Linked DNA regions of Homo sapiens: region 2 is linked to region 1. The links come from fine-mapping of genetic effects on gene expression. A gene starts in region 1. The other region holds a variant in brackets. All regions are shown on one strand. Distances are from middle to middle. Region 1 holds the start of LINC01270 (long intergenic non-protein coding RNA 1270). Region 2 holds the start of LOC105372657 (a long non-coding RNA gene).

Region 1 (14,965 bases):
CAGGCTTCGGGGCTCCCAAAACATCCAGGGAAGCTTCCAGGACTCTGGCTTCTTTGTTGTTTTTGGAACAGAGCTGAGCTCAGGTGCCTGTTTTCTAGATGACAAAACTGAACCCCGTTACAGGCTTTGGAGCCAGGTTTGAATCTCAGTCCTCTTACTTCCTGGCTGTGTGATCGAGGTTTGTCACTTGGTCCCTCTGAGGCTCAGCTTCCTTGTCTGCAAAATGGCACCCTAATGGTACCCAACTCACGGAGGTGTTTGGGGGGACAAGGTCAGCCATCCTGCAGGCAGGTGGGGTCTCTGGCCTCTCCCACGGGGTCCTGGGACTCCTGGCTCCGGAACCCCCAAGGCCCAGCCCCTCCAGGGCCCGCATGGTTCCCTCCTTGCTGGGATAATTTACAGTCCCAGGGCCATAGCTGCTGTTGCTTTATTTTTTTCCCTTCCCCGACTTCTCCCTTCCTCACCCTGGCCTCACTTCTCCAGAACCAGCTTGTTTTTGTTTTCTGTTTTTACGGCTCCATAAATGAGTCACGGGTCTGATTTGATTTAATTTCGTTGTAATTGTTATCTTTTCAAGCTTGTTTTTTTCCACTCGGTTACTCACGAGACCACAAAAACCTAAACAGGACGGGGCCTTCCCCAGCCCGGCCTCCTGGTCCCCCGGGACTCCGGGCCAGGGTCAGCAGCTCCTGGAGACTGAGGTGGGGTCTGTGGAGCTTCTGTGGGGAGGGACTTGGTGTCCCCAGCAGGACTGGGTATCCCGAGTCCCGGGCTGCAGCTCTGTTGCTGGACAGCCTTGAGAGAATTGTTCGAGCTTTCTGATTTCCCCAGCATCCTCCTTAGCAGGCTTTAGAACAGGGAACCAAAACCCAGGCACCTCTGGGCCAGAAGGTGAAAGGATGAGTAAGGTGGCCTGGTGCTGGCTCCGGTGAACTGGAGAGAACAGGCTCTCCTCAGGGGACGGTGGCCTCTGAGCCAGCAGGCGGCCCGGATCTTCCCATTTAGTAAGAGAAGCCAGAAGTCTGAGATTGTATGTGAAAAGTCCTGATTTTTAAATGTTGGCCAACGAGTCAAATTAAAAACAAATAAACAAAACCTGACTCTGTGGATATCTGTGGCCCCGTGGGCCACCTCTGGTCTAGAAGGTTCCAATTCTAGCTGCGGCAGCCGTGTTCTCAGTCCTTCCACCCTTCTGCCTGAGCAGTCCCCTCTGCCTGAAACTCTCTCCTTCTTCCTCCTCATCTCAGTCACTCTCATTCTCTGAACCTCGGTGTGTCTCCTGTTCGCAGCTCAGAAGAGATGACATCTGCTTCATCCATGTTCGCCTTCCCAAGGCGCCTAGTTGTTCCCAATTCACTTTTGTTTCTATGCTTTCTCTTCCATGGAGGGTCTGTCTTGTTTGAGACCGCCTTCGTAGTGGGGGAAATTAGCCCCTTAGTTGTTAAAAGTCATAACACATATCCTGCCTGTCTTATCATTCATTTCTAAAATGGGGCACGATACTTCTTTGGTCATTTAAAAACCGAAGACGCGAGGCCGACGCCTCCAGGGATGTGCGCTGGGCGGTAGGAGCCAGGTGTGGGGCCAAGGAGTGGGGGCGGAGGAGGAAGCCAGGTCCCCAGCCAGGGGGCTGAGGGCTGCTCCTCCAAAGCTTGGGTATGGACATGTGACCAGGGCCCACCAATCACATGCAGCCATGCCAGATTTATGAATCAGAAGTTGGAAATGTTGGGGGCTGATTGCTTAGGACTCCGTTCTGGGGTGGGTGGGGCTGCAGCCCGGCTATTTTTCCAGAAGCTGCAGTGGGCCAGTTCTGGGGGCAGTGACCAGGGCTCAGCGGTGGCCACAGTGCAGATGGAATCATTTTGCAGAAATGACCCTCCCCGTGATTATGTCAGGAATGTCAAGTACAATGAAAAGAACACTGCATTGTGCAGTCATGCAATTTGGTTTAAATATGTTTAAATGTATCCACGCTTGCTTTAGTGTGTTCATTCTAAGAATCTGTGTGCACCACAGCAATTATATGATAATTGTGTTAGGTCAAAGAGAAAATCAATTTATTTTCACAATTTTTATCCCCCACGTGGCAAGACAGTGACCTAGTCAAATCTCTCTAAGGTCATTCTTTTTTTTTTTTTTAAGACAGAGTCTTGCTCTGTTGCCCAGGCTGGAGTGCAGTGGCACAATCTCGGCTCACTGCAAGCTCCGCCTCACGGGTTCACGCCATTCTCCTGCCTCAGCCTCCCAAGTAGCTGGCACTACAGGCGCATGCCGCCACGCCGGGCTAATTTTTTTTTTGTATTTTTAGTAGAGACGGGGTTTCACTGTGTTAGCCAGGATGGTCTCGATCTCCTGACCTCGTGATCTGGCTGCCTCAGCCTCCCAAAGTGCTGGGATTACAGGCATGAGCCACTGCGTCCGGCCATTCTCTAAGGTCATTCTTCATTATGATGCTTTGGCTCTGGTTCTTGGTGAATAACTCACTTTACATGGCTTTTTCCTGAGCCAAATTGTCCATCTTTATTTTCTGAGCTGTGGCCGGAGGTCTCCAGAAGCCCCCTCCCAGCGCCTCCCTGGGTGTGTCTCATGCTGCAAAGGGCATGGCGATCTGCAGGCTGGTGCTGCACTCCTGGAGTCCTGATGGCTGTGAAGCCCTGGGACCCATGCAAGCTGAGCTCTGTCACCCACCACCACCTGTGGCCTCAGCCTTCCCAAACTCCTGGCTCAGCCCCTGCCTCACCTTCTCTTTCACCTACTTGTCATCCCCTCTTTAAGCGAGGCCTTGGGTGAGACCCCTGGGCAATGCTCTGGGCCTCAAATGGAAGCTCCATGGATGCTTCAGATGCTTCAGATCATGGAGTCCTGGAACTACTGAATTTTTTCCTCCAGGACGAAGGAATCACCAGCCCTCAGCAGACTAAACCTTTGCAACTCTAAAATTCAAATGCACAGGAGACCTGGTAGACCAAGTCATGTGCTTGTTTGGGAAGCATTTATTGAGCATCTAGTATGTGCTAAAGTACTAGGGAGACAGCAGGAAACAAAATGGACTAACCCTTTGACTTTATGGCTCTTAGGTTTTGGGAGGGGGAGACAGCAAAGAAATGACAAATAAGTGAAAGACATAGCATGTCCCATAGTGAGACCACTGGGAAAAGGGGCTGAGTCTGCAGGAATTGAAGGGGCTGGCCACACAGATGTCTGGGACAGAGCATTCCAGATCGTAGGAAAAGCAGATGCAAAGGCCCTGAGGTTGGAACAAGCTTGCATTGTGGGGGAAAGTGAAGGAGAGCCAGAGATCATCCAGGCCCTGAGGGCCTCAGGAGGAGGAGGAGTTTGAATTTTATTGCAAGTGAGGCGGGAGCATTGGAGGGCTCTGGGCACAGGAGGGAGATGGCCTGACTCAGGTTCTAACACCAGGTTCCTCAGCTTCGGCACCATTAACATTTGGGGCTGGATGCTGCTCTGTAGTGGGGTCGTCTTGTGCAGTGTAGGATGTTAAGCAGCGTCCCCGGCCTCTGCCCACTGGAGAGGTTGCCAGTCGCACCTCCTCCCCAAACCCAGCTGTGACAACTAAAATTATTTCCAGACATTGCGGAATGTGTCCTGGGTGCAGGATCTCTCTGGCTGCAAATGGGGCAAGTGGACTGTGGGGGGCCAGGATGTTGTGATGAGAGCAGAGAACCCAGCAGAGATGACTCCCCTAGTCTAGGACAAAAGGAGGGCGATGGCAGCAGAGGTGGGAGAAGGGACTGGATTCTGTTTGGAAGGCAAAGCCAGCAGGATTTGTTGGATTGGGCGAGGGAGATGTTGGAGTGGATAGGTGGATGCAGGCGCTATCGTTTGCTGAGATGGGGAACTGGTTTGAGGGGCCAACTTCATAGGTCTAGGGCAGGGCCCAGAACCTGGCGTGGTCACAACCTGGCCTCAGGGGGTGCTGAGTTTTTCACACTGTGCTTCAAAGAATTTAAGTGTCCAGAGGATGTACACTGGGGAAGGGTCTCTTCTACCGGTGCAGATGGGAACAAGTGGGCAGGCGGCCTTTCCTTGCCAGCAGACCAGGAGACTCTAAGATGCTTTTTCAAGGGAGTCAGAGGATCAGCCTCATTGGAGGACTGGTTCCAAAAGGCAGCCTCACAGCCAGGCGCGATAGCTCATGCCTGTAATCCCAGCACTCTGGGAGGCTGAGATGGGAGGATTGTGTGAGCCTAAGAGTTAGAGACTAGCCTGGGCAACATGGCGAAACCCTGTCTCTAAAAGAAAATAAATAAATAATAATAAAAATTAGAATAAAATAAAAGAAGGGATTCTGAGACTGAAAAAAGCCAAACTCAGGTGCTGCCAGGGCTGGGCAAGCAGCACTCATGGTGAAGTGGTGGGAGAGGGGTGCAGGCCTGTCTAAAGGGGTGGACGCTGCTCAGTTTCTGCCAGTGTCGCCCCGTGGGAAGCCGGGACTGACAGTTTTTCATGAGAAGCTGTAAATCTAGATCGGGGTGTCCAACCTTTTGGCTTCCCTGGGCCACACATAAAATACACTAACACTAACGATAGCTGATGAGCTAAAAAGAAAAAATCGCAAACAAAATCTCATGTTTTAAGAAACATTATGAATTTGTGTGGGGCCGTATTCATAGCCATCCTGGGCCACATGTGGCCTGTTGTTCGCGGGTTGGACAAGCTTGATCTAGATTGCTATATGAAACCTGTTGATATTTAAATGTTAGGGCAAATATCAGGCCAGGTTTGGCCTGAAGGCCGTGAGTTTGAGGCCTCTGTGATACTGCAGCCCTTCTATTTTGCAGGTAAGGAGCTGGCGGGGAGAGTTAGCACAGCTGCCTCCGAGCCTGGCAGATGGTCCTGGATCGGGGCTGGACGGGGTGACTTGGAGAGGTGGTGCTTGGACTCAACTGTGAAGAAGGGTCAGATTCCCACAAAAAAGAGGAGAGGGCATTGCAGGGGGCGGAGGAGTGTGAGCGAGCATGTGTGGCGGGAATATGGAAGACTGTTTTCCAGGTGGAGGGAGGTAAGAAGACGGGGAACTGGAAAAAGAGTTGAAGGAGACGGGTTGATGAGGATGATGGGGAATACACGGACACGGAAGGTCAGACTGGACCCAAAAGAGGGTTGGAAAAATCACCCAAACACTTCAATAATATTAGTAACTTCACTTCTGAAATTGTGTGGCAACAAGCAGCGCGTTTATTTTACCACTTACTTCGGGTTCTTGGCAACCCTGCGTACACCAGGGAACGCTTGCCCAACAAGAAACATTCTCACTCGCAGATTGTTTACAAACGCCTCGAAAATTTTTGTAATATTTTTGTAAATATTAAATTAGAAATTTAATATAGAATTATAAAGTGTGAGTGGGTTAATTAAAGATTTTAAAATTTCAACTTAGCAGGTTTTTCTTTTTCTTTTTTTTGAGACAGGGTCGCGCCTAGCAGGCTGGAGTGCAGTGGTACAATCTCAGCTCACTGCAACCTCCACATCCCGGGTTCAAGTGATTCTCCCACATCGGCCTCCTGAGTAGCTGGGACTACAGGCATGCACCACCACACCTGGCTAAGTTTTGTATTTTTTGATAGAGACAGGGTTTCACCATGTTGGCCAGGCTGGTCTCCAACTCCTGACTGCAAGTGATCCACCTGCCTCGGCCTCCCAAAGTGCTGGGATTACAGTAGTGAGCCACCACACCTGGCCAGCAGATTTCTTTAAGTATTTTAGAGGCAATATTTTTTCCCCAAAATCTCCCTTGTGCAAATTTTCTACCTCACAGCTGCCAAAATTTGAGGTGGTGGACAAAAATAGTTGATATATAATGATAGAAAGACGTAAGTGAGGTATATATATAGAGAGAGTCTAGAAAGAGTTCGCTTTCAAAGGGGAGGATCAGGGCAGTCTCCCTGGAGGAGGAGGTTTTGAATACGTGCGTTGAAGGGTGGGTGAAATCCAGACCAGGCAGGTGGGTTAGGGAAAGTGAGGGCATGCCGGGTGAAGGGCCCTGTGTGTGCACAAGGGTGAGGTGGGAATGATGAGTGTGAGAGTTTGTACCAAGGGGGCTGGGGCTGGGGTGCCAAGAACCAAAGAGCCATGATAAGGCCTGTCTGGGGCTCAGCCAAACTGGGGAGTAGTACACGAGAAGAGGAATGGGGAGCCCTAGAGGGTTTTAAGTAGGGGAGGAACGTGGAGTCCATAGCAAGGCAGAGTGGCTGGTGGGGAGGTGGGGAGGATGCCATGGCAACCATTCACGCCAAGCCTCAGCCCCGACCCTCAAGGAGGCAGGCAAGGCTGAGCTTCCCTTTCCAGATTGTTTGTGGGTGCAAAAGGGCAGCAAAGAATGTGGGTGCCTTGTCCTTCTGCCCATGGTCTAGTGTCCTTCCCCTCACCCCAGTCCCAGTGGAGCCATCATAGGTGAAATATAAGAACAAGTCACCTGCGTTCAGTGGCTGCAGAATACCTGGCCTCGCACAGAAGGCTGCGGGGATTTCTGCTCATTCATTCTTCCCACCTGCCGCATGAGGGAGGTGCTATGTCCATTTTACAGAGGACACTGAGTCCCAGAGAGGCTAAGCGGCATGCCCGAGGTTACACAGCCAAGAAGGGGCACAGCAAGATTCAACCCAAAAGTCTGCACTCCAGCCACTGCCCTATCATGACACTCACGAGCTCCCACCAAGTCTGGCTCCAGTGTTTCCAGTACCATAATCATCCCCATTTACCAGATGGGTAAACTGAGGCTCTGAGAGGTGGAGTCACTTGCCTGAGGCCATACAGCAGGAAGGGTAAAAGTAAAGATTTGAATCCCTGGGTCTAGTCGACTCTGGAGCCTGCTGTTCTCCCACCATACACCTCAGCTGCTCGCCCTCCTGGGCATCTGTTTCCTCATCTGATGAACAGGGGTGACGGCGATGCCTCCCTGGCAAGGTCCGCAGAGGATCCCGGGTGGTGTATGTCAATCACCCAGCTCAGTGCCTGGCACTCAGTGGATGCTTTAAACGTGATGCCTGTGTTTATTCGTATAAAGGTGGCTGAATATTAAATGGGTGGATTTATGGAAGGCACTTATGGTAATGCCCTGTACATAATAGATGCTCAAGAAACACTAGAAGCAGTTACTATGATTATAGGATCGACCACAGGGGACAGCCCAGTAACCCCTCAAAGTTGCTTCCTTCCCAAGTTGCCTTCCATTTATTTCTCCCTTCATCCAACACACTGGCCTTAGGGTCCAGGTTAGGATTTGGGGGCTTGGGGGGCTTAGGTTACAATTTGAGGTGATTTGTCCCCCCCTGCCCATCAGTCAGAGTGATGCTGAGAGCACTGGATGATAAGACCAGAATTCTAGGTCCGCGCCCCGGACCTGCTGTGTGATCTCTGGCAACTGCCTTGCCCTCTCTGGGCCTTGGTTTCTCCTTTCATCTGCAGAGCCTGGGCCAGGCTGCCCTGGGAGGTGCCAGCCCCGAATGGGGCCGGGGGCAGTTCCTGTGTCCCCTTGGCCACCAGCCTCCATCTCCTGCCTCTTGAGCTGCAGGCCCGCCCGGCTCAGCTGTGACGACGAACCAGCCAATCTGTTTACTGAACTGGCTGACCCCTTCCGGGAACTCGGCCCAAGCTTCCCAGAACTCGGGTATTAATGACCCGGAGCCACATGACGGAGCATGACACAGCACTTTTGGGCACAAGGCAGGGCCCAGAGGGGTGCGTGGGGGCCGCAGCCCAGCCCCCAAGCCCCGCCAGCGGGTGAGTCACCTGGGCCCCCTGCAGCTTCCTGATCCCGGCCACTCAGCTGTCCTCCCCACCCCCAGGATATCCCCAGTTGTCAGGGCTGCCCTGGGACCCCTCGACCTTTGCACTAGGGACTTAGCAGCCGTCTTGGGTGATCAGGGCTGCCTTCTGGGATTACAGATGGGGACAGTGAGGCCTGCAGGACTGGAGTGAATGAACAGTGAGCTCTGAGTAAACGTCCACTGTGCGGGAGGCACTGTGCAAATACGTCACGTTAGTCTCGCAGCGATGCAACACAGTGGCGTAGTTTAATCCCCATATGATAGATGGGGAAACTGAGGCTCAGAGCGGGAATGAATTCTCCCAAGGGCATGCAACAAGAGCACTCTGTTTGACTGGAAATAATTTCCTTTCGTCTCCTCAGCAGCCGACAAGGGAGGTGCCATGTGGACTGTTTCACAGCTGGAGAAACTGAGGCACAGAGGGGCTGAGTCACCTGCCTAACGCACTGAGCAGTCTGGCTCCAGGACCTGTGCTCTGAACCAGCACCTGGCACATAGCTGGCACCGACATGGTCTCCGTGCACTGCCATGGATGAGAGCAATGCTGGCTGCGGTGTCGGGCGGAGCTGGGTTCCAATGCTGACTTCACCTTTCTCAGGCTGCACAGCCTGGAGCACGTGGCTGCACCCTACCGTGCGTCAGTTTCCTCACCTGTGAAGGGTGATCGTGGTGGTCCTGATCTTGCAGAACTGCAGTGAGGGCTGTGAGTGTGGGGTGTCTCAACTGCACCTGGACACGCAGAAGGCACTCTGTGAACACTGACTTTCATTGGCCCAGGCCTCTGAATCCATGACAGTTCAATCTCTGAACCCCACAGCTTCCTCCTTCACCCTTTGCCGCCCCAGGGCAAGGTGAGGGCGGTGGTTTTTATGGGCCTGGGAACCAGACAGGCTCGGGCTCAGAGGGGGCGCCTGCTGCTGGCGGGAGTGGGGCCTCCTGGTTCCCACTCCCTGATTTTGGGCTGGGGGCCGGTGGTGGGCAGGGGTGGGGCAGCACTTTGATGTTCTTCCCTTCATTCCACCACCACTGCTTGAGCACCTACTGTATGCCAGGCTCCAGGGGACCCAGCAGTGAACAAGGTCTCTGCCCTCACTATGGTGGAGGAGAGGATGGAGGAGATAAACATCGGTGAGCAAATGCTTGAAGAGGCGAGAGGATTTCACCAGAGAGAAGGGCCGTGATGGGAATCAGCAGGGGTGTTTGGGAGCTGAGTGGGTCAGAGAGGGCTTTTCTGAGGCGGTGATGTGGAGCAGATGCCTGAAGGAGAAGAAGGACCAGACCTGGGGAAGAGATTTCCAGCAGAGGGAAACTCACCACAGCACGTGCAAAGGCCCTGAGGGTGGGAATGGGTTTGGGAAGTTCCAGGAAAGGCAAGGAGGCTGAAGGGGTGTGAGGAGGGGACAGCAGCAGGACATGGTGCTGGAGGGCCAGCAGGGGTTGGACCATGCAGGGCTTGGTGGGCTGAGTGAGCAGCCGCGGCTGGGACTTGGGCAGGAGCCTATGTGAGAGATGGCAAGACTGCCTGAGATCGCATTCAGAACTTCTACCCATCTCACAGATGAGCTCAGTGAGGCCCGAGCCAGCTTCCCCTAGAAGGTCAGTGGCTGGACAGGCATGAGAATCGAGGGAGTTCAACTCCCCCGGAGAAGCCAGAAGCCAGAACACAGGCCGTGGAGGAGAGGGTCCCACATTCATCCCTGCAGCCCCGAGAGCTGTGGGCTGTGGGGCTGCCTGGATGGCTTCCTGGCGGAGGAGGTGACCTCCAAGCTGTGGCTGGGGCAGAAGGGCTGGGAGAGCGTTCCCAGTAGGGGAAGCAGCACACAGACAGGCCCAGAGGTGGCGGTGAGGTGCAGGCGTTGTCTGGGAAATTCATCACTGCTTGGGAGTCAGGAAAGTGACCGGGTGAGGAAGTGTTATTGTCAGGGTCTCCCTTTCAGAAGGCCTTGGGGCCAAGGGGAGGAGCTGGAATTGCCTTCCACCGCGTGCAGACCCCAGGCTGGATCCCAGGACTGCCCAGGGACAGGCACACGTCTGCCCTCATGTGGCCCACAGTCCAGGGGCAGGGACTGTCTGGAGAGATTAGGGCCATGGGGGGCAGGAGGGCGGAGGGGCAGACCTCCCATCCTAGTTCCAATCTCAGTGCTGTGACACACTCCCTGTGTGACTTGGGGCAAGTCACTTTACCTCTCTGAGCCTCTGTGTCCTCATCCATAAATACCACCTGGAAAGATATTCTCAGAACTCAGTGAGATCATTCGCTCATTCGTCCACTCATTTATTCCTTGGATTTTTTTTAGCGCTTCCTATATGCCAGGTCCTGGGCTGGGTGCTGGGGACACAGCAGTGACAAAAATCCCTGCCCTTGTAGGGCTGATGGAAGAGGTAGTGTAAAGCAGTGAGTGGTTAAGAACACAGACATTGGAGCCAGGGGCCTTGGGTTAACTCCTGGCCCACTGCTTATTTGCTGTGTGGTTTTGGGTGAGACACTTTACCTCTTTGCATCCTACCTGTAAGATGCCACGTCATAGGATTGCTGAAAGGACAAATGAGTTAATATATGTAATGTGTTTAGCACACAGCCTGGTACATAGTAGGTGCTCAATTGTGCTTGAATGAGCTGAGATGTGCAATAAGCAAACAGAAGAGGGGTGAGTGGATGAGACAGTGTCTGACAGTGGGAAGTAAAAGTGACCAGCTCTTAGCAACAAGTAGGCATACAGTAGGTGCTCAATAAGTGTTTCTCCTCCTTTGTCTCCTTCCGAGTCCATCTTGGACCTTAGCCCATAGGGGACTTAAGGGCCTGAGGTTTGGAATCTGCGTGGAAGGCGGGAAGTCGTCTTTGCTGATCCAGAAACCCAGAGCTGAGCTTTGGGGTTGGCAAGAGCAGAGACGCCCCCAGCACCCCTGCCCCTCACGCTCCCTGCACCCTGTCCCCAGCATCATGTGCAGCCTGGGTGGCTGCGGCGAGCTGGGGCCTGCCCAACGGGTCCCCAGTAATGACACTCATTACACAGGTGTCTGGCAGCGGGGGGAAGCGAAGGCCCCAGGGGCCGCATTCACATGGCACCCAGCCAGCCCACCCCAGGCCCTTCCTCGTCCTTTATAAGTCTGGTGCCCAGGGCAGGCGGGCAGGCTGGGGAGAGGAGCTGGCGAAGGGCCAGCTGGCGCCCAGTGAAAGGAGGGAAAGTTGAGAGGTCTGGGTGCCAAGCACTGGTGTGGAGGCCAGGGGAGGTGGGCACGGGGGGCGCGTGTGTGTGCACACGTGTGTGTCAGGGTGTTTTGGAGGGGGCGGGATGCAGTGAATCTGTGTCCAGGTCTATGCATCCCCCTGGCCTGTGTGTGGAGATGAGAGGGTCTGTGTAGATGAAGCATTGATGGTCCCCCAGGTGGGTGCAAAATCTCCCATGCCCGTTTCATTTGTTCTTTAACCTACACTGTGAGGTGGGTACCAGGCTGGGTCCAGCCTGGACCTGGTGATGTCAGAGCCAGTCCCAGGGCAGCCCTAGACTCTGCCGTCTAAGAGCTCCAAATCCAGGGACAGACAGACGCCAGGCAGAGGATCAGGACATCCCAGTGAAGACTTTGATGGAGAAAAACAAGGCAGGGGGCTGACAGGGATCAATAGGATGGGGTCAGAGGCCTCACTGGAAGGTGAGCTTGGCTGGAGGCCTGGAGGACGAGCCGCCATGGCAAGATCTGCAGGAAGAGAGTTCTGGGCAGGAGGAATGGCAAGTGCAAAGGCCTCGATGCAGGGCTCAGCTTGGCCTGTGTGAAGGGGCGAGTGAGGAGGGGACTGGGGGCCGGGGCAGGTCCAGAGCTCATGGCCAAAGTCAGGAGTGTGCATCTTCTGAGCGCAGTGGGAAGGTTGGCACATGGTAGGTACACAGATGGGGGCTCCACTGGGGTGAATGGGTTTGATGAGAGCCGGGACCGGGCCCTCTGGGTGTGGGAACGATTGGCTTTCAGAGCTACAGACAGGAACGTGGGCTGCTCAATTGTATTTGAACCTATTCTCCTGGGTTCAAACCCCTCCTGGATCCTGGAACCTGTTATTAAGCCGGCTGCACCCCAGGGCACCGGCCTTTATATCCAGACAGGGCCCTGGCCCCCAAGACGGGGGTGGACGGGTGATACTGGTGAACCCCATGCCTGCCCCACCCCCTGCCAGGCCCCTCGGCAGGGCCAAGTCTGCTTCTGAGAGCAATGAGCATCTCTCCTTTTACAGATGGGGAAACTGAAGCCCAGAGAAGGAATGGGTATGTCCTGGGTTCTTGTGGCAGAGTGCTGGGGGCAGCACCCAGAAAGCCTCCGTCACAGCTCATATCTCTTCCTACTTCATCCCCGCCCACAGCGGGCTCCTCCTAATAGGACTCTGGCAGGGTAGCAGCTGGTGTCCAGGCAGAGCTAGAGGGAAGAGCTGGGTCCAATTTGAGAAGCCTCTGTTAATTGGGTCCTATAGGAAGAACTGTTAACACTGTGAGTTTCCCATCACCAGAGGTGTGCAAATAGACCTGGATAACAGCCCTTCACCTGCTTAGAGATTACAGAGAGGTTCAGGCGGATGGGAGACCACTTGCCTTCTAGCTGTGTGATTCCACAGGACCTCGGAACAATCCTTAGCTCAAGCCTCAGTTTTCCCGACTGTAAAATTGTTTTTTGTAATAATCAGAGTGACCTCATTAAAAGGACAACTTTGTTGATAAAATTCTCCTGCATTTATCCAGGCCTCGCTTGGTTCCCCAGTGCTAAGAGACAGCTCTAGCCCTCACCATGGCCCGCACATCCTGTAGCCCTGGTCCCTGGGGCCTTCCCTCCCACCCCCTGATTCTCCCCTTCCTCTCTCTGCTGCAACCACAGACTTCCTCCCTGTTGTTCCTCTCCTACCTCAGGGCGTTTGCAGATGCTGTGAGCATTGGATGTCGGGCGGAGGGCTTTCCCTAATTTCAATCTCCCACCAGTCCTATCAGGTAAATAGGAGATCCATTTTACAGATGAGGAAACTGAGTCTCAGAGAGCTGAAGTTAAAGACACACAGCTTTTTGTGAATCCACTGAGTCAGGATTTGAGCTCAGGCCATCTGGAATCTAACACCACTCTCTTTTCTTCATTCCTTATGTGACTTGTTTTCATTTTCAAAACTTTGCTCAACAGTTGCCTTCTCCAGGAAGCCTTCCCTGACTACCCTCTCCATCCACCCTCCCATGACCTTCCTGAGTTTCACCTTTGCTGCACTGCTCACACTGTCTCTCAATTATCTCCCTTTTTTTCTTCTCAACAGCTTTACTGGGGTGTAACAAACACACGATAAACTGCGCATATTCCAGTGTTCATGTGGATGAGTTTGGACATATGCACACACTTCCGAAACCACCAGCACAATCAAGACAGCAGACATATCCATCGCCCCCAAGGGTGTCCTTGTGTCTTTTTGTCATTCATCCCTCCCGGCCGCCCCATCCACACTCCCATCGCCTGCCGACTGTGGCTGATCTGCTTTCTGCGGCTGTGGATTAGTTTGCGTTCTCTACAATTTTCTGTAAGTGGAATCATGTGGTGTATTCTTTACTGGGCTTCTTTTCCTCAACATTATGATTTTGAGAGTTACCCACGTTCCTGTGACCATTCTCTTTTTTTATGTATCTGCCCTGTCCCCCTCAGACTGTGAGTTCCATGGGGCGAGGACTTTGTCATATTTACCTCTGCGTCCCCAGCACTCAGCACAGGGCTGGGCACACAGGAAGTGCCTAATAAGTGTTGACTGACGGGAAGGAGGATGAGGACATGCCCAAATGGGGGAACAGCGGGCACATTTGCATGGCAGTGAGGAGCCCAAAGCCGGATTAAGAAAAAACAGCCCCTGGAATCATCTGGAGGCCTCGTGGCCCCATCAGATAAGCATATCTGCTCATCCCCATGGCTGTCTCTGAGGAGCAAAGATCTGGATTGCACAAGGGCTGGGCCTGGGCTGAGGAGGCGCTAGTGGTCCCTTTATCTTGCGTGGGCATTCGGCGCTGTGTTCTAGAACTGCACAGCCCACGCACCCCGGCAGGCAGAGGCCTGGGCTCCGGCAGCGGGTGGGCAGGTGGGAGGCAGGAAGAAGTGGCCACCCAGCCCTCCCCAAACCAGTTGGACTCCTTTGCAGAGATTACTGCAGGCGCTTTGGGAGCTGGCTAAGGGAGAGTGGGAGGCAGGAGGAAAAAGCAGGAGGAGGGGAGGAATCATTTAATGAGCAAATATTATAGGGAATTTCCAGTTCATGCCCCATCAGGCTGGGCAGGAACACAGTGGGATTACTCAGGCGGTTTCCAGGTACCAGCCTCAACCTCGAAGGTTCAGTGTGGCTCAGATGCCTCTAGGTCTTCATCGCTGGCTAGAAACCCAACTAGCCAGGGTGAGAAAGTGGCGGTGAGTTACATCCTGAGACAAAGCCTGCAACCAAAGTCGAGTCTAAGCATGCGCTTCCTGCATCAATCTTTGCTGAGATGACCTTATTGCCCATTTCCCAGACAGAAAAACTGAGGCTGGGAGTTGTGGCATTGGCTAAGGCCACACAGGGGTCACTGCGCAGTAGGGACAGCTTAAAAGCCAAGGCCATTTTGGAGTGACTCCTTCAACAAGGGCCACATTCTTTTGATAAATACTTATTGGGCACCTACTGTGTGCCACACACTATGCTCAGCTCTGCAGGTTAAAAAAAAAAATGGAGGCCGGTCACGGTGGCTGACGCCGGTAATCCCAGCACTTTGGGAGGCCGAGGAGGGCAGATCACGAGGTCAGGAGATCGAGACCATCCTGGCCAACATGGTGAAACCCCGTCTCTACTAAAATACAAAAAATTAACTGGGCATAGTGGCACGCACCTGTAGTTCCAGATACTTGGGAGGCTGAGGCAGGAGAATCTCTTGACCCCGGGAGGCGGAGGTTGCAGTGAGCCGAGATCGCACCACTGCACTCCAGCCTGCTGACAGAGCAAGACTCCGTCTGAAGAAAAAAAACGTGGAGTCTTTGGGCATATATTGTGCATTGCATCTTATCTACAGATGAACACAATTTTTGAGGTCAGAGATGTTTTGTGGAACTTTGTTTTCTTCTTTGTGGAAACAAGAAGTTTGGACCAGACTAGCATTTCCCAAATCTATTTTATCATTTATCCATTTTGAGGACACAGATCT
Region 2 (14,965 bases), 51 kb after region 1:
AAAGTGCTGGGATTACAGACGTGAGCCACCACACCTGGCCAGTAAGTTGGCAGCAGTGGGATTCAAACCCATGCCTCTGAAGAGACTGGAGTCTTAATACAGTGCCTTAGACCGCTCGGCCACCCTACCTCCGTGGAAAATATTATTCTCTCTTTAAATAAATAAGTTGAAGGACAGAGATTTGCCACCTCACTTCTCAATGAATTAAAATACAATATACAATTTTCTATAGGTGGGAGGGCTCATTTGATGCAATGCTAAGGTTTACTGTTCAGCTGTGGTAATCAAGACAGTCTGGTTGGCAGAGGGACAGATGCATGCAACAGTGGAACAGAGTAGAGAACCCAAGAATAGACACGCACAAATGTGCCCAAAAGATTTTTGACAAAGATGCAAAAGCAGTTCAATGGAAGATAAAAAGCCTTTTCAACAGATCGTGCTGGGGCAATTTGACATCCACACGCAAGAAACAAAGCACATTGACCTAAACCTCACACGTTATACAAAACTTCACTCAAAATGGATCATAGACTTAAAGATAAAACATAAAGCTATAAAACATTTAGAAAAAAGCAGGAGAAAATCAGTCTTCAGAATCTAAGGCTAGGCAAAGAATTACTAGATGTGAAAACCAAAAGCACAATTCATAAAAGGAAAAAAATTGATAAATCGGACCTCATCAAAGTTGAAAACTTTTAACCCATGAGAGGCCCAATTAAGAGGAGGAAAAGACAAGCTACAGATTAGGAGAATATATTTGCAAACTGCATATCTGACAAAGAACTAGTACCTAGAATTCTTAAAACTTGACGGAATTCTCGAGAACTCTCAAAAGTCAGCAGTTAAAAAAATCCAAATAGAAAATGAGCAAAAGACACAAACAAATATTTCACTGAAAAGAACATGCAGATGGAAATAAACACATGAAAAAATGTTCAACATCATTAGCCATTAGGGAAATGCAAATTAAGGCCACAATCGGATATTGCTACACACCTATCAGAATGACCAAAATAAAAAACGATGGGAACTTTCGCATTCAATCACTGGTGAGGAATGGAGACACTAGAACACTCATACATTCCTGATGGGAATGTAAAACGGTACCGTATTCTGGAAAACAGTTTTTTAAAAACTGCCTTATGACTTGGCAGTTGCAATCCTGGACATAAAAATGAAAACTTATGTTTGTGCAAAAACTTATGCTCAAATCTTCATAGCAGCTCTCTTCATAATAGGCAAAAACTGGTAAACCACCCGGAAGCCTGTCTATGGTTTTTTTTAACTAAAAAAAGCTGTGTTATATCCATACTATGGACTGCTACTTGCAATACAAAGGAATAAAATATTGATAACACACAATTTGAATAAATCTTCAGAGAATTATGCTGAGTGAAAAAAACCAGTCCTCAAAGGTTACATAAACTATATGATTCCATTTATGTAACATTCTTGAAACCACACAATTATAGAAATGGAGAACAGATTAGTGGTTGCCATGGCTCGGGGGCAGGGTTGGGGGTGGGAGATGGGTTTGGTTATACAAGGGCAATGAGGGATCCTCGTGGTGATAGAAATGTCTGTATCTTGACTATATCACTGTCAATATCTTTATTGTGACTGTTAACATTGGGGGAAACTGGAAAGGGTATATGGACTCTCTCTGTTTATTTCTTACAACTGCATGTAAATCTATAATAATCTCAAAAGAATACATTTTAAAAAGAATATATTATACAATTTTCTATACCCAGACACTACTAAATATAATTATATCTTTGGTAACACAGACACACTGTTCTCAGATAACGGAAGTAGTGCGGTGATTATGTGTGTGACTTGACAATGGGATGGGCTGGGTTCAAATCTCAGCTACCAGTCCCTTCACCTCCTTGGGCCTCAGTTTCCACACCTGCAGGTGCTGAGCAATGAGAGGAACTGTCTCGTGGGGTTGCTGGGGGGACACGATGACGTGATTCATGAGACATGCAGAGCACAATGCTCACTTGCAGTGGCTGCCCAGTAAATGAAATTGCCACTTTTCCGGGCTGTAGAAAAGGCTACAGGTAGAGGCAGGCAGAGGATTGGACCCGAGAGCATCCTCTGAGAGCTCTAGATTGGGATCATGTCTCACCAGCCAGGGGGTTTGTTTTGACTTCTTTCTTGCAGGGAAGTGTCTGCTGAGTGGTCCATTCCACTCCCCTGAGTTTGGCCTGGTCGCTTCTTGTCTGCCCTCTGGACCCCGGTGGGTGCAAACTTTCATGGGTGTCTCTCCACCTGGAGCCTGTGGTTGGGACTGCTCAGGTGGGGACACAGCCTGGGGGGTGATCCTCTGTAAGGCAAAATGGAGCAGGAGTGGAACCCATGCCTACTGCATACCTATTGTGTGCCTTGTGACTTACGTGCTGCAGCTCACGGAATTCTCCCAACAACTTTGAGCAGTAGGTGCTATAATCACTCCTGCGTGATCCAGAGAAAACCGAGACTTGGTGAGGGGAATGGACTTGTCCAAGGTTGTGCAACTAGTAGGTGGCAGAGCTGAGATCTGAGCCCTGGTCTGTCTGATTTAAATCCAGAATCATTTTCACTGTTGATAATAACCTCACCACTTATTAAGTATCTACTAGAGTAATCAATATGCTAGCTCTTTCCATTGAGGTATGATCACCTTTCCATTTTAGAGAAGAGGAAATAGGGGTTAGGCAAGGTGCATTGCCAAGATGGACAACAGCTCTCAAAAAACAGCCAACCTTGCAGCCAACGGGCAGCTTTCTTGTGTGCCCCCAACCCCACCTGTAGCTCCAGCCCAGCTCAGCCAAGATCACTCAAGCTTTGGGACTTTTAAATGCTGAGTCAGCAAACAGCCCCTACCTTGAGATACTCTGCCTAGGCAGACTGTGGTTGTTTGCACTTCAGCTTCAGGCCTCCAGGGTCAGCTGAGATAGCAAGACCTTCCCCTGGGGGCTGGATGGGGTCATTGGGAGCCACTGAGAGACCCTTTCCCCACTTGGCCTGGCAGACAGAGTGGCAGTTGGAAGAGGCTCGAGGTGGCTGTGGTGGTAACAACTTCCTTTTGAGTAATAACATTTACTGAAAAGCAATTCTGCTTTTAGCACCAGAAGTTCACCATCCTTGCAAGCAGGCGCCTAAGAATACCTTCATTCAACCACAGTTCAGAGATTCACAGACTTCCTTTTGCACTCCCTCCAGGAGAGTTTCACATTTGGTGTTGAGGGAAAACCAAATACCACAATTATTGGAGGGGGTGGGAGGGGTGTTGAGAGGGAGGTGATGCGAAGGAGGCCAGGTGGCATCAACCACAGCCCCCAAGGCCTCACAGGCAGCCTCTGGGCAGCGGCTCAGCCTCTCGCCCTCAGTTACTGGAAAGACAGCGGACGAGCTCATAATGAAACCGACAGGCTGACAATTTATCTTCCTTTTACAAGAAAAAGAAAGTGATTGTCCTTCAAACAAGCATGACTTTGGAAGCCAGGGACTTACCCTGGCCACTCTGCAAATTAGAGACAGAGCCAGGCTGCTCCAGAGGCCCCGAGCCCCTGCCTGTCACCCCCAATTAGCGCTGGAGTTCTTTAGGCTCGTTTTTTCTATTGCCCAAAATCCAGTCTACTGGGGCATAATGGGGACTTATGGAAAGAAAAAAATCCAATCTGCACTTGGGAGGGGATAGCCTTAAATGTTAGGCACTCACCGCAGGCAGCTGGGGGTGGCTGAGGGCAAGGGAGAAGGCATGGGTGGGGAAGGAGGGGATGTGCCAGGCAGAGCCAGGAGGCTCCAAAAAGCAGCTCTAAAAAGCTCTCCCCCTCCCAGCAATCCAGCCTCCTGACTCACGCCAGACACAGAGGCAGCTGATGGGATGGGAAGAGGCTGGCTTTGGGAGCCACAGGGATGTGGGGGCAAACTCCAGCTCTGCCACTTGCTGGCTGTGTGACCTTGGGTGGGTAACTTCACCTCTCTGAGACTCAGTTTCCTCACCTTTAAGATGAGGATGAGTATAGGAGGTCAGGACATGACCTTCCTGTGCTCAAAACCCTCCCACGGCTCCCACCTCACTTGGCAGAAAGTCAAAGATCTCTGTGGCCTACCAGGCCCTACAAGATCTTTCCCATGCTTCCCTTATAACCTCATCTCTCTCTCTCTGTCTCTTTTTTTTTTTTTTTTTTTAAGACAGGGTCTCACTTTGTCACCCAGGCTGGAGTGCAGTGGTGCCAACACATCTCACTACAGCCTCAACCTCCTGGGCTCAAGTCATCCTCTCACCTCAGCCTCCCAGATAGGTAGGACTACAGACACATGCCTCCACGGCCAGCTAATTTTTGTATTTTTTGTAGTAGAGATGGGGTTTTGCCATGTTGCCCAGGCTGGTCTCGAACTCCTGAGCTCAAGTGATCTGCCCACCTTGGCCTTCCAAAGTGCTTGGGATTACAGGTGTGAGTCACCGCGCCTGGCCCATCTCCTCTTACTCACTCTCTCTGGTTCCCTCTACCCCTGCCACACTGGGCTCCTCTTTGTTCCTCCAACATGCTAAGCACACGCCTACCTCGGGGCTTTTGCACACACTGTTTCCGCTGCCTTCAGCATCCTTCCTCCAGATAGCCACAGGGCTTCTTCCCTCTCCTGATCTGGGTGTCTGCTTAAATGACCCCGGGGGTCCTGCTCTGACCCCCGGCCCTTCCAAATTGCTCCCCTGGCCTTACCTCTTCACCCTGCGTGAATGTTTTCCCATAACACTGACCACTACTTGACACAATAATTTAGGGGGTTCATAACTCCCCATTGGCCAGACTGTAAGCTCCCAGCAGGCAGAGGCCAGTTCTCCACTGTCCTCCATTAAATCTCAGAGCCTGGCACATAGGGGGCACTCATCCAGCATTGAATGAACAGATGCAGGGTTTTGTGGTGAGAAGGGAAGAAGGACGTGTGTGGCGGGTTCAGCACCAGCCCAGGGTGCGTGCTCACTGTCACTTCTTCTCTCCTCTGCCCAGCACCAGCCCCATGTCATGTGCTTGTTGAATTCCTACAATGGAAGGATGCATTTTACAGATGCAGGAATGAGACCACAGAGCCCAAGCGACTGTCTCAGCCCGCAGCGGGGCAAGGCTTTGAATTCTGGTCTGCGGGTCTCTTGGCCTCCAGGACAATGGTGACAGTGTCCAGTCTGACTTGGGGTCTGGGTGAGAGAAATGGCTGGTGGGGCCATCAGACTCTTGAGAAGAGGCCCTGGCTTTGAGGATCTCCAGCCGACATCTGGGCTTAGGACTGGGGTTCACGCCCCGTCCTCCTGTCCCACAGTCCCACATTCTGCCCCAAAGCAGAATGCAAGCCCCATCAAGGAGGCTCAGGGTTTCCAGAGAGGGGCTTCCTCAACTTTCTGTTGCTGGAAAGTTCTGTCCCAGAAAGGGCAGACGCTTGAGGAGCTCCTGGATCCGGCAGAAGGCTCTGAGACTAGGAGACCCCTGGTGTCCTCGCTCCCCGGCACCCCGCCAGTTCTCGAATACAAGGGACTTTCCAGAGAAGTCAGCCTCCTGGCTGCCTCCAAGCCTGCCCAGGCCTGCAGGCCCAGGTCTCCATGAAGCTCAGTCCTGCCTCGGTTTCCCTGTTTTTAATTTCTTGGAGAGGCCAAGGAGTTTGGAGGTGAACAGCCTCATACGAGCACTAATTTCCCCTAGGCCTGGGGCATAGGAATTTTGGAGCCATAAACAGGCTTCTCACAGCCCCCATGATGAGTCCTCCCCACACTCCATCCACCCTGGACTCTGGGCTGAGCTGGGCAAGGAGCTGGTCTGGGGTGGGCTGGGTGTTGCCTGTGGGTGCGGCTCAGAGCTGGGGGCGCTACCTCTGCCCTTCTGTCCCCCATCAGAGCTGCCCCAGCTGTATGAGAACCCCTCCCACAATGGCTACAACAGAGGGCACGCAAGTGAGACGCCAGGAAGAACTGCTTCAGCTTCGTTATCCTCAAAGGTGTTCGTACCCATCAAGCCTCCTAGAGCAGACCTCCATGACAGCTGCCCATGGGACAGGTCCACTCTGGAGATATGTTTAGTTTGGTCCTTAAAGTATTTTTTTTTAATGTGAATCAATTGCCAACATCTGACATGCCAGGAGATTTCACATAAAGTCCTTTTCTCTGGCTTCTCTTGAAAAATGGGAAGATGTGGCCATACTGGGCCCACATTCCTACTGGACACAGGAGGCCTGGGAGTGGGGTTGCGGGAGGCCCTTTCTTAGTGGCACATAGTAGGTACTTTCCTGTTCACCCAGTCCCTGCATGCCCCACTTTCCTCATATCATTTCCTTGCCAGGGTCTTGAAGTATGAGTAGGAGTGCGCCAGAAAAGGGCAGTGGAAAAGCGTTCCAGCAAAGGGGAACAGCGTGAGTCGGTGAGATGCATCTGTTCAAGATTCACTCGACAAATATGTATTGATACTTACTGTATACACAGGGACATACAGCAAGAAACCAAACAAATCAAAATCTCTGCCCTCTGGTTCTCAGCTAGAGGTGGTTTTGTTCCCCATGGGACACTTGGTTATGTCTGGAGATGTGTGTGGTTGTCACAGCTGGGTGGAGGGAGGGTGCTATCAGCATCTAGTGGGGAGAGGCCAAGGAGGCTGCTGAACCAATCCTACAAAGCCCAGGGCAGCCTTCAGGTGCAGAATGATCTGGCCCCAAATGTCAGTCAAGCCAAGGTCGAGGGACCCTGGTCCGGGGGCACAGACACCAAATAGGACAAGCCAATGAACTCAAACCGTGAAGCCAGCAGCTGATGAGCACTTTCGGATTAAATGAGCCGGAGCATGGTGAGAGGGATGCAGAGGGGTGTGGCTGCTCAAACAGGTGCCGTCTGCACAGGGGCAGGTCCTGAAAAGATTGTGGCACTGCTGGCAGGGTGGCCCTGGCATTGTAGGTGTTCACTGAGTGGCACTTTCTTTTTTCCACCCTGCCTAATCTTCATGACGTCCTTGCTGTGGAGCAGGGATCTGTGTTCCTGACCGGGCATCGCAAGCCGTTAAGAGGCTGACCCAGGGCTCCTGACCACTCAGTCAGTGTCCTTGTGCTGCCTGGAGGTAGTGATGGTCTCTGAATTGCCTCCTGTCATTCAGTCAGTCAACAAACATCTAACAGGAGCCCATTGGGGCATAGGGGGAGGGAGCAACTTAGGGTGAACTGCTCAGCTTACAACATGTGGTAGGTACGCAGGAAAGACTGGTGAAAGGAATGAAAAGAAAGAATAAGTGAATAAGCAAGCCTCAGGCCATTAAGACAATGATCATGGCCAGCATTGATTGAGTGCCTACTGTGTGGCAGGCTCATCCTAAACCCTCCATGTGAGAGTCTTACAGAAGGAACACCTCTGAAAGGGGGGCCAACGACCATCCCCACTTTCAAGGTGAGAAGACTGAGGGGAAGAGAGGTGATGTCAACTGCCCGAGGCCTAGCAAGAGAATGGCAAGGCTGTCGCCGGAGCCTGGGCCTACCAGATCCCAGGGTGCACCTGCTGCCTCAGTGTTGTGTATGCTGTGGCTCAAATCGTTATGCCACCGGCCCTGTGAGGGAGGTGCTAGCATTATCCCATGTTACAGATGAGGAAACCAAGTCTCAGAGACAGGAAGTGACTTGCCCAAGGTCACACGGCATGTGTGTTTGAATCTAGATTTCACGTTTTCAGCCACCAAACCCTGCCCCTCGTAAGCCCTGGCCGCTCTGTGAGGAGGATGCGTAAGTCCCAAGGGGTTGGGGAGGGAAAGTGGGCCAGGGAGCTAAGCCCTCCAGGGTCTGCAGGACCAGGCAGGAGGCTCTGAAGGAGGCAGGGTCCCTGGTGGGCAGATGGGAGCAGGTGGGCCTGGGGAGCCGCCAGCCTTCCGCCCCCACGTGCAGGCATGCCCGCCAGGAGGGCCTGTGGAGAGGCCGCCCCGCGGTGTGTGCCAGGCTGACAATGGCTCCTTGTGTCTGTGCCGACGGTGGGAGAGGGGAGGTATTGTTTGCCAGGACACCTTCCCGCCAAGGCTGGCTGCAGGCGGTCCTTGTCCTAGGACGCTTGGCACGGGGCTGTTCCGGGCGCCAGAGGGAAGTGTGTGTGTGCATGTGTGTGGCTGGGTGTTCTGGGCCACGTTGGTGCTGGCTGCGGCTCCCTGGGTGTGCCTGTGCACGTGTGTGTGGGGTGAGGGCATGTGTGTCTATCTGAGTGTGCCCATGCACGTCTTGCACACCCATGGCCAGTGTGTCTGAATAG[T/C]CTTGTGGCTTGGGGCTTCCATGTGTCTCCCTGGGCGTGGCTGTGGCTGTGACTTTACGTCTGGCACCGTGTGTCTCTCTGTACCTCTGGACCACGTGTGGCTCTGAGCACCTTTGGTTTGCGTGCCCATGTATGTCTCAGCCTGTCCCTCTGCTTGTGTCTCCATCTCCCTCGGGGTCTGTCTGTGGAGCATCTTGATCCCAAGGGGGCAAGAAAGCCTCTGTTTCAGAGTGCGGGCTGAGTTCCATTCGTGGCTGATAGGTGAGGGAGGGGGCTTCAGGCAGAGGGAATGGTGGGTGCCCAAGCTGGGGGGCAGGATGGAGTTGGCAGATCTGCAAGAGCAGCCAGGAGGCTGGGTGGCCGCAGTGAAGTGAGTGGAGGTGAGAGGACACCAGGGGCCACCTGCAGGCCAGAGTCCAAAGTGAGGGGCAGCCATCAGAGGATCTGGATGGGACCATGACATGGTCTGTTTCATGGCAACGCCTTTGGCTGCAGGTGAAAAATGGGTTGTAGGGCAAGCCTGAGAGGTGTTGGGAGTCGCTGTGGCCAGTGTTAGGAAGCAGTTCCACAGCGCCACCTCAAGGAACCCCCACTCCATGGCAGGGGTTGCAACTTCCCCATTTTGCAGAGGTGGAAACTGAGGCCCAGGGAGGAGAAATGCCTCCCAAGGCCTGCAGCCTGGGAGCTGGCCCAATGCTAAAGCCAACCCTCCACCTCCTCCATCTTGGCTGCCTGCTCCTCTGCAAGTCGCTCTGCATCTTGAGGCTCTGGTGACGCCTGTGCTAAAGTCAGAGAACCTGGAGTCCTCGTCAGGTCAGGAACCAGGACTCTGGAGCCAGATGACTTGGGTTCGAATCCTGCCTCTGTAGCTGTGTGACCTTGGGCAAATCACTTAGCCTCTCTGCACCCCAGTGACCTCATTGGCCAAATGGGAGTGCTTGTTCATCATTACCTCCAAAGTGCTGTGCCACTAGATCCCACCTGTGACAGCCGCATCTCCTATCCCTGCTTTATTTTTCTCCAAAACACTCATCACCTTCTAGCATACTACATCTTGTATTTACTTCCGATGACACTGGAGTGTCCGTTCCACGGCATTTTGGGTTTTTTGTTCATGAGTAGTGTCTAGAACAGGGTCCTGCACATAGTTGGTGCTCAGGACTATTTTGTTGCAAGAACCAGGTAATACATGTGACATATGGGAACACAGCCTGGCACGTAGTGGGTGGAATGGAGGTGTCTGCTGTTGTCATTAAGTTGGGAGTAGGCACTTGGAAGCAGGACAGCCCAGTCAATCCTGATTAGGAATGGGTGTCCCATCTCCTTTTCTGCACATCCTTCTTGCCTTCAGGACCTGCTCAGCCCACTCTGGGCCAGACATCTTTTATATTGGTCTCTGAAAATAGGGAGACTCTGGCAGGTGCTATGAGCTGCTGGTTTCAAGCCTTATGAGGGATCAGTGACCCGGTTTCCCCACCTGACCACAGCTGATCCAGAGGCTTCGATGGTCTCTGCTCTCTCAGGACTCTCCTCTGTATATTCCCCTATATATATATTCCCCCTGACCACCCCACTGCCCCAGATCTTCCCAGTCCCTCTGTCGGTAAATACAGTTGGCAGCTCTGGCAAAAATGTCCTGCCAATGGTACAACGAGTCGTTGGTGAATATTTAGGAAGCCCAGCGGGTTTGTCAAGGAAGCAGCTTCCTGAGCATAAATATTTCTAAGAAAGAATGAAAGGAGGGGCCTCGGCCTCAGAGATCAGTGGGTGGTGTGCTGACCTCCCAAGGTCATCATGTCCAGTCCTCTGCTGCATGGTCATTGCTTCTGGTGTCCCATTGGCACCTGGCATCCTGGTTTCCTGAGAAGGGTCAGGAGCTGCAGGGGGAATCCAGGCCCAGGCGGAGAACAACCTGCTCTGTCCTCTCACTTCCTTCCTGCTTTTCTTCCAGACTCCCATCCCTGGCTGGGACATGCTGCAGTTGTCAGCAGCTGCACAGGAGAAGCAGGTTGGGGGCTGACCAGGGTAGCCATGGCTTCCTTGAGGACCCACTGTGGTGTGGGGGCTTTGCTCAGCGTAACTGGATAAACTTGGTATCGGCCCTCCCCTCCTGCAGCTGCCAAGGTTCAGGCCTCTTCTCCCATTCCTCTCTCCACCCCACATTTATTGAGCACCTACTATGTGCCCAGCCCTCGGAGACAATGAAAAGACCTCTGCCCTACCTTTGCCCTGGTTCTGATGTCCAGTATCTGTCCTGGGACAGTTGTGACAGCTGCTCAATTGTCCCTTTCAGTCTCTCCCTGTCCCAGCCCTTCCCCTTCCACAACGGCTGAGTTCATCTTCAGAAAGTGCAACTCCAGATCTTGCTTCTGCTCTGCTCTAAAACCATCAATGGCTCCCCGCTGCGACCTGGAGAAAGTCCAAACGGCCCGGCTGGGTGAGCCTGGTCCTGCTCCATCTACCCCAACTGCCCTCTGCAGCTTCGTTCCCCACGTCGCCAGCCACGAGGATGACCCCTAGTTTTTCGAACACACCTGGCCCCTCCCACCTCCTTACCCTTGCTCAAGCCATTCCTGCCAGCCCAGTGCCCTTTCTCAGCCAACCTCTCGTGTCTGTAGCCTTTTGTTTGTTTCTTTCTTTCAGGACACATCACACAGTGCTTTGAATTGCACTTATTTATATCTTCTTTTCCTCCCAGAGGGCAGGAAGTTGCCAGATTCATTTCTGGGCTTGGCGCCAGGCTCAAAGTAGGTCCTTGTTAGATTCGCTGGCTGAGCTGGTGAGGATGCTGTATTTGCGCGGGTCTGGGGCCACCCAGCACATGTGTCCCTTCTTCTGGAGACCACGTTGAGTTTCCCCTGTGGTGCCTCCACCCCCTTGGTCTTGTGAATTAGGAGAGTTGACCCCATCCATCCTCAGGGCTGCAGGCCTGGCCAGTCAGGCCCCTGGCCACATGGATTGGTTCAGGGGTAAGCACACGATCCAATCAGGGCCAAGAAATTAAACCGGCGACTTTGGAATGGGAAAGACGTTGCCGCCTTGAGGTGGCTGAGCTCGTTGTAGGATGTCAGCCTGGAGCAGCTGAGGCACTGTGCCACCCTGAGAAACAGAGACCGCCTGAGAATGCCAGTGACATGGGGCAAAGCAGAGCCAAGAGGCGCAGACAGCCCCCAGACGAAAATCGTCAGCGGTGCTCCTGGATCCAGCTGTATCTGAAGCAGACATGGCTCTCTCATTCTCCCTTTTTAAAACCCACCTTGGGTTGGGTTTCCATTGCCTGCAGCTACAAGAAATCCTGACAAATAGCTGAGCCTTCTGAATATACATCTCATCACCTTACTGTCCGCACTGCCATGACCCCATGCGAAATTCTCTCATGAGGAACCCCTTTGAATATCCAAAGCTGGGGGAGGCGTCTCTTCCTCCACAGAGCTAGTTTCTTTTCTCACTCATGGGCAATATGAGCAATGATCGCTGGTTCTGGTTGCCTCAAGCTCCTTTTGGAATAAGGAAAAGAGCAAGTGGAATAACCTAAAGGACTAAAATGGGCTCGAGTTCCCAGGGGCTAAGGCTGGGCCCTCAGCCCCACTACTGTTCAGCATGGACAGGCACACAGCAGATGCTTCTCGGCCATTCACTGCTTGACAGTGCAAGGCAAGCTTTCTCAACCTGGGCCCTCGGGCATTCTGGACTGGCTGCTTCTCTGTGAAATACGCCAGGTTTGGTTAGGAGCGAGTTGCCCAGTCTGTGTTCTACTGACATTTAGTGCCAAATAACTCCTGGTTGGGGGCTGTCCCATGCATTGCAGGACTTGTTTAGCAGTGTCCCTGGCCTCACTACCCGCTAGATGCCAGTAGCACCTCCTTCCCTGAGTTGTGACAGCCACACATATCTCCAGACGTTGCCAAACATTCCTTGCAGGGCAAAATCACCCCCTGGTTGAGAATATCTGCTGTAAGCAAAGTGTGTCTCACAGGACCTGGCACATAGCAAGTGCTCAATAAATATCAGCAAAGATGGTTCGGTGACGATGATGCTAAAGATGATCACTGAGGAAATTTGGGGCCTCAGTGAGATCCAGATTTGGCTGACTTAAGTGGGAAGGAAATTTATTAGAGGAACATGAGTGAGCTTACAGAATTTATGAGAAAGCGGAAGAGTCAGTTCAAAACAACCCAGAAACGGAGGCAGTTCAGTAGGTCCCGACAGCAAGAAGCAGATATGCTGATAGCGGCAATGAGCTATTCCCGTTTCAGCCATCCCCCCACTTCCTCCTTCCTAACAGAACCTATTTTGCTCATTTTGCACAAGAAATCCCTGCCCCCACCCCTCCCATGGGCTCCAGGAAGATGGGCCTCAGCCAAGCCTCAGGGGACTGATTCCCGTTGCTCTAAGTCAGCCACAGTGTCCCCCACCCCAACAAGGCCAGTGATTGATTTAGGCTGGACATGGAATGTGATTTTAGCCAATGAGATGTGTTGAGAAATTTGTTAGAGGCTTCTGGGAAAGGTTTCCTTGCTCTTCGAGATAGAGGTTTATTTCACTTTGTATAATCCAGGTTTTCTTCTTTTTGAAGGCTGAATAATGTTCTGTGGTTTTTTTTTTTTTTTTTTTTTTTTTTTTTTTGAGACAGTTTCGCTCTTGTTGCCCAGGCTGGAGTGCAATGGCGCGATCTTGGCTCACTGCAACCTCTACCTCCCGGGTTCAAGCAGGCCCCATATGTGTGGCCTGTGCAGAAAGAGACTGGCAGCCTGGAGGGGTGAGACCTGGGTGGAAATGAAGAATTCAACCAAAGCAAGTAAAGAAACTGCCAGAAGCTTGAGCCCCCGAGAAGCTCCCGATGTCTGGGGGTAATCCCAGGATCTCCATCTTTTTTTTTTTTTGAGACGGAGTTTCGCTCTTGTTGCCCAGGCTAGAGTGCAATGGCACGATCTCGGCTCACTGCAACCTCTGCCTCCCGGGTTCAAGCAATTCTCATGTCTCAGCCTCCTGAGTAGCTGGGACTACAGGCGTCTGCCACCACACCCAGCTAATTTTTGTATTTTTAGTGGAGACGAGGTTTCACCGTGTTGGACAGGCTGGTCTCAAACTCCTGACCTCAAATGATCCACCGGCCTCAGCCTCCCAAAGTGCTGGGATTACAGGCGTGAGCCACCACACCCGGCCGGATCTCCATCTTTTAAAAAACATGACTTTCTTCTCTGGGCAGGTGGGAGGCTGAGGGACACCTCAGCGTTAAGCCAAAAACAGCCGAGGCAGCATTCATGCCTCCTCCTTCCAAAGGCCCCCATGTCTCCAGGGGTTGGGAGCCTCCAGCTCTAGGCTGCGGGGATCCCCTCTGCCATTCAGGCCCAGCCCCTCTACACTGGGCCCTGAGCATGTACCTGGCTCCCCCAGTGTACCCGAGGGCCTTGCTGTCACCGGATGGATTGAGCAACTCAACCGAGTGTGCATTTTCCAGCTCAGGCTAACCACCATTCAGTCACTTCCCCTCACGTTCATAGACCAGTTGGTTCCTTGTCATTTCTCAGGGGACACCATGACCCTTCTTGTGAACTCTCCATGATGCAGGCGAGAATCTGAGTCACCCAGAGCTAGCAACCTGATTCACCTTTGTCCCCCAAACCCCTGGCCTGGCTCTCAGATGAAAACAAATAATAATAATAATAATGAATATAGCCACTAATTCCTACAGTGTCCTGAGAGCTTTACAGGTACCTGCACTGACTTTCAGGTAGGTACATGCTTGTCCCCATTTCCTAGATGAGGAGACTGAGTCCCAGAGAAGGTGAGTAACTTGCTTATAAGGGAAGAAGGAGTCGTGATCTGAAGCTAAGCAATAGGGTGGATACATTCAAGCATGTTTGGTTAGACATTTAGCAAAACACCTTTGCTGAAAAAAAAGTTTTGAAAAAAAGTTATGAAAAAAAAAGATTGGAAACTCTATTTTTAAATGTATCACCAGCTTGGGAGGCCAAGGTGGGCGGATCACCTGAGGTCAGGAATTCGAGACCAGCCTGGCCAACATGGTGAAACCCCGTCTCTACTAAAAATACAAAAAAAAAAAAAAAAAATTAGCCAGGCGTGGTGGCAGACACCTGTAATCCCAGTTACTCCAGAGGCTGAAGCAGGAGAATCACTTGTACCCAGGAGATGGAGGTTGCGGTGAGCTGAGATCACACCATTGCACTCCAGCCTGGGCAAGAAGAGTGAAACTCCGTCTCAAAAAAATAAAAATAAAAATAAATAAATGTATCACCAGCTCCATCCATTCATCAGACACATGTTTCCATAGTAGATACCTTGTGCCTGGAAGGTTCTTCTTACGAGGGACATGGGAGTGAACAAACAGGTAAGGTCCCCTCCCCCCTGGAACTTGTAGTCCAGTGAACACAATCAATCCATTTAGGACTTGAACATTTGAAATTGAGACTTCCCTGTACCTATAATTATCAGAACTGTATGAGATCCTGAGGTGGAAAGATGGTGACTTCTGTGGGCTTTTTTGCTCAAACACAATTCTTTAAGAAAGAGACCTGCATCTCGGGCTGCCCACCGCAGTGTGAGGATGTGAGAAAGACCCAGGGACCTCACAGACCATGTGATGTCACAGAAGGCACAGGACTGCCAGGTGCAGTGGGTCACACTGTAATCCCAGCACTTTGGGAGGCAAACATGGGGGTGTCGCTTGAGGTCAGGAGTTCAAGACCAGCC

What was found.
Region 2: its variant is fine-mapped to the expression of LINC01270 in whole blood (TOPMed, PIP 0.98).

Annotation. Positions count from the first base shown.
Region 1 is chr20:50,285,085-50,300,049 of GRCh38, forward strand. LINC01270 (long intergenic non-protein coding RNA 1270) reads left to right here and starts at 7,636. Exons shown (of 5, transcript NR_034124.1): 1 at 7,636-7,746; 2 at 13,072-13,329. RefSeq lists a silencer at 783-832 and enhancers at 7,189-7,925, 9,039-9,539.
Region 2 is chr20:50,335,758-50,350,722 of GRCh38, forward strand. LOC105372657 (a long non-coding RNA gene) reads left to right here and starts at 14,941. Exons shown (of 3, transcript XR_936837.3): 1 at 14,941-14,965. RefSeq lists enhancers at 3,357-3,556, 14,698-14,747. The variant T/C (reference allele first, on the strand shown) is at 8,252.